Homo sapiens: one gene and its partner. Changing the gene in region 2 together with the main gene of any one other region gives a genetic interaction. Each region holds a gene or a part of one and is shown on either strand. Other genes may lie near its edges.

The links.
Region 1: changes in SMNDC1 (region 2) and CENATAC together harm fitness more than expected from each alone (negative genetic interaction), as found in Homo sapiens cells (one large-scale study listed by BioGRID).

The regions. Positions count from the first base shown.
Region 1 is NC_000011.10:119,001,097-119,004,748, forward strand, and holds part of CENATAC (centrosomal AT-AC splicing factor), read left to right. Parts: intron 1-516; exon of another isoform or gene 517-729; intron 730-1,856; exon of another isoform or gene 1,857-2,497; intron 2,498-3,652. UniProt on the Homo sapiens protein: Component of the minor spliceosome that promotes splicing of a specific, rare minor intron subtype. Negative regulator of centrosome duplication.
Region 2 is NC_000010.11:110,298,329-110,301,980, forward strand, and holds part of SMNDC1 (survival of motor neuron-related-splicing factor 30), read right to left. Parts: intron 2,409-3,652; exon of another isoform or gene 2,222-2,408; coding exon of another isoform or gene 2,219-2,221; intron 463-2,218; coding exon 320-462; intron 1-319. UniProt on the Homo sapiens protein: Involved in spliceosome assembly.

The DNA of each region.
Region 1 (3,652 bases), on a different chromosome or scaffold from region 2:
GTTAATGGTATGACATTACTGAAAAATATGCAGGAACCATGAGTGATCACTTTTACTGTAATATGCAATTTACTGGTGAGACAACTGCTTACAAGATGATCAGCATTACTGTGTTTTAAGCAGATACAACACTTGAGTTCACTGCAATAGGTGGCTACAAAATTGTGACAGTTGTAGTTTGGATTATAATTTTATACAGTTATGTAATATTGCATCTTTACATTTATTTTCATTTCTCTTGACCGCGAATGTCACCATGTACAGTCTGTGTTTCTGTGTGTAAGTTTTGATAAATTTTAACTTTTTTTTTTTGGAGAGGGAGTTTTGCTTTGTCACCCAGGGTGGAGTACAGTGGTGCGATCTCGGCTCACTGCAACCTCTGCCTCCCGGGTTCAAGCGATTCTCCCGTTTCAGCCTGGATTTGTGTATTTTATGGTAGTAAATCATAAAAGACTAGTATCTACATATATTTTATGCATTCATGACATACCTTTTTAATTTTTTCCATATTTCTAGGCTATGTGGTTCATCTGCAAGTTTTTTCAAATTGTTGCAAATCTCCAAAAAAATTTTCAAGTGAACTCGTGCAGTTCAAACTTGTGCTGTGCAAGAGTCAACTGTATTTGCTTATTTTCTCAAAAAGGAATGCCTAAAGGATAATCAAGAAACTAATGAAACTGCCAGATGTGGTGGTGCACACCTGTAGTCCTAGCTACTCAGGAGGCTGAGGTAAGAGGATAGCTTGAGCCCAGGAGTTTGAGGCCATCCTGGGCAGTGTATCAAGACCCCATCTCTAAAAAGAAATACGAATTTTTTTTTAGAGAAGTTAATGAAATTGATCACATGGCCATGCTCAGTGGCTGACACCTGTAATCCCAGCACTTTGGGAGGCCGAGGTGGGAGGATCATTTGAGGTCAGGAGTTCGAGACCAGCTTGGTCAACATGGTGAAACCCCATCCCTACTAAAAATACAAAAAATAGCTGGGCGTGTTGGTTTGTGCCTGTAATCCCAGCTACTCGGGAGGGTGAGGCAGGAAAATCGCTTGAGCCCAGGAGGCAGAGATTGTACTGAGCCAAGATCATGCCATTGCACTGCAGCCTGGGCAACAAGAGCAAAACTCTGTCTCAAAAAAAAAAAAAAAAAAAAAAAAGAAACTGATCACATATCAGTTAGTGTAACCAGTTGGTGTGACCCAGTTTGTGGGTCAGTAAAAATGTTTAGAGTTGATAGGAATAGAAAAAAGATTTTTTTTTTTTTTTTTGGACAGTCTCACTCTGTTGCCCAGGCTGGAGTGCAGTGGCACAATCTCAGCTCACTGCAACCTCCACCTCCCAGGTTCAAGCAGTTCTCCCATCTCAGCTTCCAGAGTAGGTGGAATTACAGGCTTGTGCCACTACGCCTGACTAATTTTTGTATTTTAGTAAAGATGGGGTTTCACCATGTTGGCCAGGCTGGTCTTGAACTCCTGACCTCAAGTGATCCACCTGACTCGGCTTCCCAAAGTGCTAGGATTACAGGCATGAGCCACCACACCCGGCCTAGAAACAAGATTTCTATGTATACTTTTAAAAATAAGCTGTTGGTTTTTTTTTTTTTTTCTGATGGTACATTTGGGAATTATACTGTAACAGGCATAAGAAGTAAGATTTCTCCCATGCGAAATTTTGTATTCAGAATCCAATAGAAATATTTCAGGTTTTTTTTCAAGATGGAGTCTCGCTCTGTTGTCCAGGCTGGAGGGCAGCTGCGTGATCTCGGCTCACTGCAACCTCCGCCTCACAGGTTCAAGCAATTCTCCTGCCTCAGCCTCCTGAGTAGCTGGTATTACAGGCATGCGCCACCATGCCTTGATAATTTTTTTTTTAATGGTGAAAAGATATACATATATTTAGAATTAGCCAACTGGACTCAGTTGAGATGATCCCTATTTTGTTGGCAACATCCAAAGCATTGTAATCAGGAGCCAGTCGAACATGTTCCTTCTCTCCATCAGGCCGAATCAGGGTGTTGACCTTGGCCACATCAGTGTCATAGAGCTTCTCTGGTGCTGTGGCTTAACATTCACAGTGAACACAAGTGCGTGTGTCTTCTGTCTTCTTCATGGAGACTCAGTGGTCAGAGGAAACTTGATGATGCATAGTGGTCAAGCTTGTTTCTCCTGGGGGTGCTCTTAAGATATTTGCACTGCCTCCGGAGTCGCAATGTCTTGGGCCGCCAGAAGGCTAGTGATACGCGGATCTTCTTTTTTTTGTGGCTGTGGACACCTTTCAACACTGCCTTCTTGGCCTTCAGAGCCTTGCTTTGGCTTTAGGAGGGGCAGGAGCTTCCTTCTTAGCTTTTGGTGCCATCTTGTGAAAAGGGGCTGATTTTTGTATTTTTCGTAGAGATAGGGTGTCACCATGTTGGCCAAACTGGTCTCGAACTCCTGACCTCAAATGATCTACCCACCTTGGCTTCCCAAAGTGCTGGGATTACAGGCGTGAGCCACTGCACCCGGCCAATAATTAGAAATATTTCTCTCTCTTTTTTTTTTTTTTTTTTGGGAGACAGAGTCTTGTTCTGTTGCCCAGGCTGGAGTGGCATGATCTTGGCTCACTGCAACCTCCACCTCCTGAGTTCAAGCGATTCTCCTGCCTCAGCCTTCCGAGTAGCTGGAACTACAGGTGCATGCCACCACACCTGGCTAATTTTTGTAATTGTAGTAGAGATGGGGTTTTACCATATTGGTCAGGCTGGTCTCGAACTCCCGACCTCAGGTGATCCGCCTGCCTTGGCCTCCCAAAGTGCTGGGATTATAGGCGTGAGCCACCGAGCCCGGCCCAAATTAGAAATATTTCTAATCAGATATTTCCATGGTTATAGATATTTGGTTGCTTGGTTCATATGCATAGAAACAGTTGTCATAACTGTAAAAAGCAGTACTTAGCAAGTATTTCTAAGTGATTGGAATAGCTTTCCTTTAATGTTACAATACTGCCTATTGATTTGGAAATTAGATCACGCTCTATGATGTTTCGATTTTACTCAAAGGCATCATGAGTACTCTGCTCATTCTTTCATTCTTTATAGTTTTCTAGTTGAGTTAGGAACTATTTTATCAGAAATCATTTTAGCATTATAATAAGGGTAGATGACATACCATAATGATTTTCAGATTTTTTTTTTTTGAGACAGAGTCTTGCTCTGTTGCCCAGGCTGGAGTGCAGTGGCACGATCTCAGCTTACTGCAACCTCCGCCTCCTGGGTTCAAGTGATTCTTCTGCCTCAGCCTCCCGAGTAGCTGGGACTATAGGCATGCGCCACCATGCCCAGCTAATTTTTGTATTTTTAGTAGAGATGGGGTTTCACCATATTGGCCATGCTGGTCTCGAACTCCTGACCTCATGATCCACCCACCTTGTCCTCCCAAAGTGCTGCAATTACAGGTGTGAGCCACTGGTCCCAGCCTGATTTTCAGATTTTTAATAAAAAGGGTATCTGGATTAGCTGGGCATATAGTCCTACCTACTCTGGAGGCTAGCCTATAGTCCTACTTACTCTGGAGGCTAAGGCAGGGGGATCACCTGAGCCTGAGGGATCACTTGAGCCCAGGAGGTTGAACCTGCAGTGAGCTGTGATCCCACCACTACACTCCAGCTGGGCAGCATAGC
Region 2 (3,652 bases):
TCACAGAATTCTCAGAAAAACCAACCATTCACTCAATTTTCAATTAGAGAAAATAATTTAGATTATTTTAGAAAACACCCATTCATTGTCCTGTTTTTCTTTCCTCCAGAATCCCAGCCATTCTTCTCCCCAAAACTTAATCTAAAGCTAAAACTAAACTGTATTAATGGCAACCACCCAAGAATCAAATTGGCTCTATAAATCATACTGCCTAATAGAAGTCAAGATTAAAATAGGGTAGTTAAAACTGAATAAAAACTTCTTACCATTGTATTTTATTATTTCATGTTATAGTTAGAGTTTTTTTTTCTACACTTACTGTCCATCTTCACTCCAGACTGCCATACACTTGTCTCCTACTTTCCATGAATGAGTAGGTTGAGTAGAAGCAAAACTGTCTGAACTTGCAAGCGTCTCAGAAGGTTGAGTTGACAGAAGGTCTTTGGTTAGTTCTATAACTTCCTAAAAAAGAAAAACAAAAACTACAACATTATTTTTATAATTCTCATTGTCAACTTAGTTTCTGATGACAGCCTTCATACTGTACGTTAAGTACTCTACATATATTTCATTTGCAGCTCATAACACTATTAAGCAAGTACTGTGATTATCCCCATGTAGAAACTGATACAGTATTGTCTACCAGTTAAGTGGCAGAGCTGTGACTTAAGCCCATATAGTTGCCTTTCAACTTAACCACAAATACTAATGAAAATATAAGACTTGAGCTTATACCATGCATTATTTCTAAGTGCCTATTTTAGCTGAATAGATCTCTCTAAAGATGAGAAAGTCAAGTATGAGGCACTGAATTAGATACTCTTATTGTAACATATTTTATGCAACTGTACTGTTTTATAGGGCATTACTCAGCAGTATTAACTGCCAAGCAATCCCAAAACACTTTAAGCAGCTTTATTAGTAACAAAAATGTTCCTACTTATACATATCTCGACTAAAATACTACAGGCAATGTAAAAGAAACCAGTGGTCTTCCTATTCAATTATTGTAAAACTCACCCCATCTGGGTAAGCAAATTACCAGGTTAGATTTTAAATGTTCCATACCTTAATGTTAAGCACATTAGCACAGCTTCATTTAAAAGGGGGAAAAAAAGGTAACACACAAAGGCAATGCCTTTCTGTGTGGCAAATATTTTTTTCTAATTCAGGCTTACATTTATTGGCTTCATTCAAAGATGTTTGGTGTAGGGATGGCTAAAAAATTGAGAACAGTACAAGCCGACAGATTCTGCTACCTGTCTACTATATTGTTACTCTAATGAAGATCCACACTATGCATCTTATCTGATCTAAGAACTTGCATAGCTGTTCACCCATTGTTGCATTTAAAACATCATACTGTGTGTTTGGGGAGAAAAATTAACAAAGTTAAACTATGTACTGAGTTTCTTCTAGTTCCCACTGAGGTTTCATAATAGTAATTTTGATTCCAGTAGCCAAGAAAGTTAAATATTACCTCTCTCCTAAAGATTCTAAATCTTCCTGGCTATTTCTGAAAAAACTAATATTTGAGTCTTAAATCTCTTGAAGAAAGGTTAGTTTTATAAATAAATAAATAGAACACTTAGGTTTGATTTAAAAATTTAGTAGGAATAATATCTCTAAGTTTTATTAGTTGCCAACTAGCCATTAATTAGATCTTTTTAATTAGACAGTCCTTTGCAAACAAAGCAAAGAACCTTCCAAATAACTAGATCAAGTAGTACACAACAGAAGAGTAAATTATCTGGTCTTATTTTTAACCACTTTTAGGGGTAGGAATGTAATCCAGTCAGCCTGACTCAAGAGCCCACACAAATCTCTATCATTAAATACTTCCAGATCCACCTAGGGATCATTTAACTTAAGCACAGACATGAATTCTGCACTTGTAGGTTTCAGATTTAGAACTCTATTTCTTTTAGGACAGAACTGTTTTCCAAATATATTTTGTTAAAGAAATATATTTCATCAAAGAAAAGGGTCCTGAAAAGCTGTGCATATTAGTGAATTCAGAGGCCTGTGCTGAAATGACCCTTTTTTAGAAAAAATCCAGAGCATTTACTCCTAATGTCCTTTAACTTTGCCATGGTTTTACATAACCCTCCCAACAAACTATGAAGAACCTTCTAAATTTCTATTCTTCACATGTGCGTATGGACCAAAGTATTAGAAAAACTATTTTATGTATGAGGGGGTTCTTGAAGGTACATACCATTAATTACTTTTCCTCCCTCAAGTCTGAGTTCTGAAACTGCTCCTTCATCGACAGATGGGCAGCAGTTACAGTAATCGGCAATTCCAGGAAGCATCAGGTGTTGTGATCTACATATCAGCAGGTCAAATGGGGTGCACTCAAGCACTCTGCTTACTGAAGGAAGGCGTTTCGGGGATGCAGAGAGCCACTGTAATATATGAGACAAGTGACTTGACCCCTGCCTCCTTTAGAACCAGCTTATTCAGCAAAACAGCCTAATAAATTGACTATCTCTGATTATCATAGACTGCCCGGGGAGCTAGTCAGCTAGCTAGCCTGGATTTTATCACACCCACTTTTTTAAGTGAAAAAAGAAAGGCAGGACTTTAGTAGATTATTTTGCTGCCTGCTGAATAACTTTAGTCTCTATGAAAGACAGTACATGAAAGAGATAAACATGGAAACCTTACTGGCAAAATGAAGTCATTGAAAAGATGCAAAAAAAGCATTTTGTCATAAAACAAAGGGCAAACAAATTAATAACTGGGATAAGGATCTAATTCTATAGAGGAACACAAGAAATTAGAAACCATATGATGGTCAAAAAATATTAATATGAGGAAGCCACAAAATCAGTCTGAACAGACTTTTCACCAAATATAACAAGCTGAATTAAATACCCATAGCATGAGATACATCCCAGAAGGCAGAGAAGGAAAAAGGAGGGGAATGAGGGGGGGAACCCCACAGCAAAATAGAAGCTGTTAAGTGTAGTCTCAATGGAGACAACAATTACTGAGTGGAAGCTTATAGCCAAATACTTTTCAGAGTATTACCTCATCTTAAAAGATGGTTTCCGTTTTTGAGTAGTTTTCAATTCAAAATAGACCTTATCTAGGGACCAAAATGAAATTTCTAATGATAGAATAAAATGGGAAGAAACTCTGATCAAGACTGGTCAGGAAAAACATTCTGTTATTACTATCTGAAGTATTAAAACTTGCACTTCTAAATCCTTGCCATCCAGTATGGTAGTCACGTGTGGCTAATTAAGTTATACTAAAAACTCAGCTCCTAAGTAAACCTAGCTGTATTTCAAATATCCAACCAAATGTGGCTAGTGGCTATGGTACTGAATAGCAGATATAGAACATTTCCATCATCACAGAAAGTTCTACTGGACAGTGCTGTTTTAAATGGTTATAGAAAAGAGGATACTTTACAGAAAAATGATTTCCAGGTCATTATTAACTGAACCCCTGCAAGCAAGCCTTTTAGGGGCTTACTACAGTGTTTATCACAATGGTTTCCCCCTACAGTACTTTCCACTATGATGATCATGACATGGTAAGGCAGTTCTGCTCAGACTCTAATGAGGAATTATTCTAGAAATATTAAAAAGACCTGATGATAATGCTATTTCTAACTCCACTCCCAACTTCCCCAACCCAA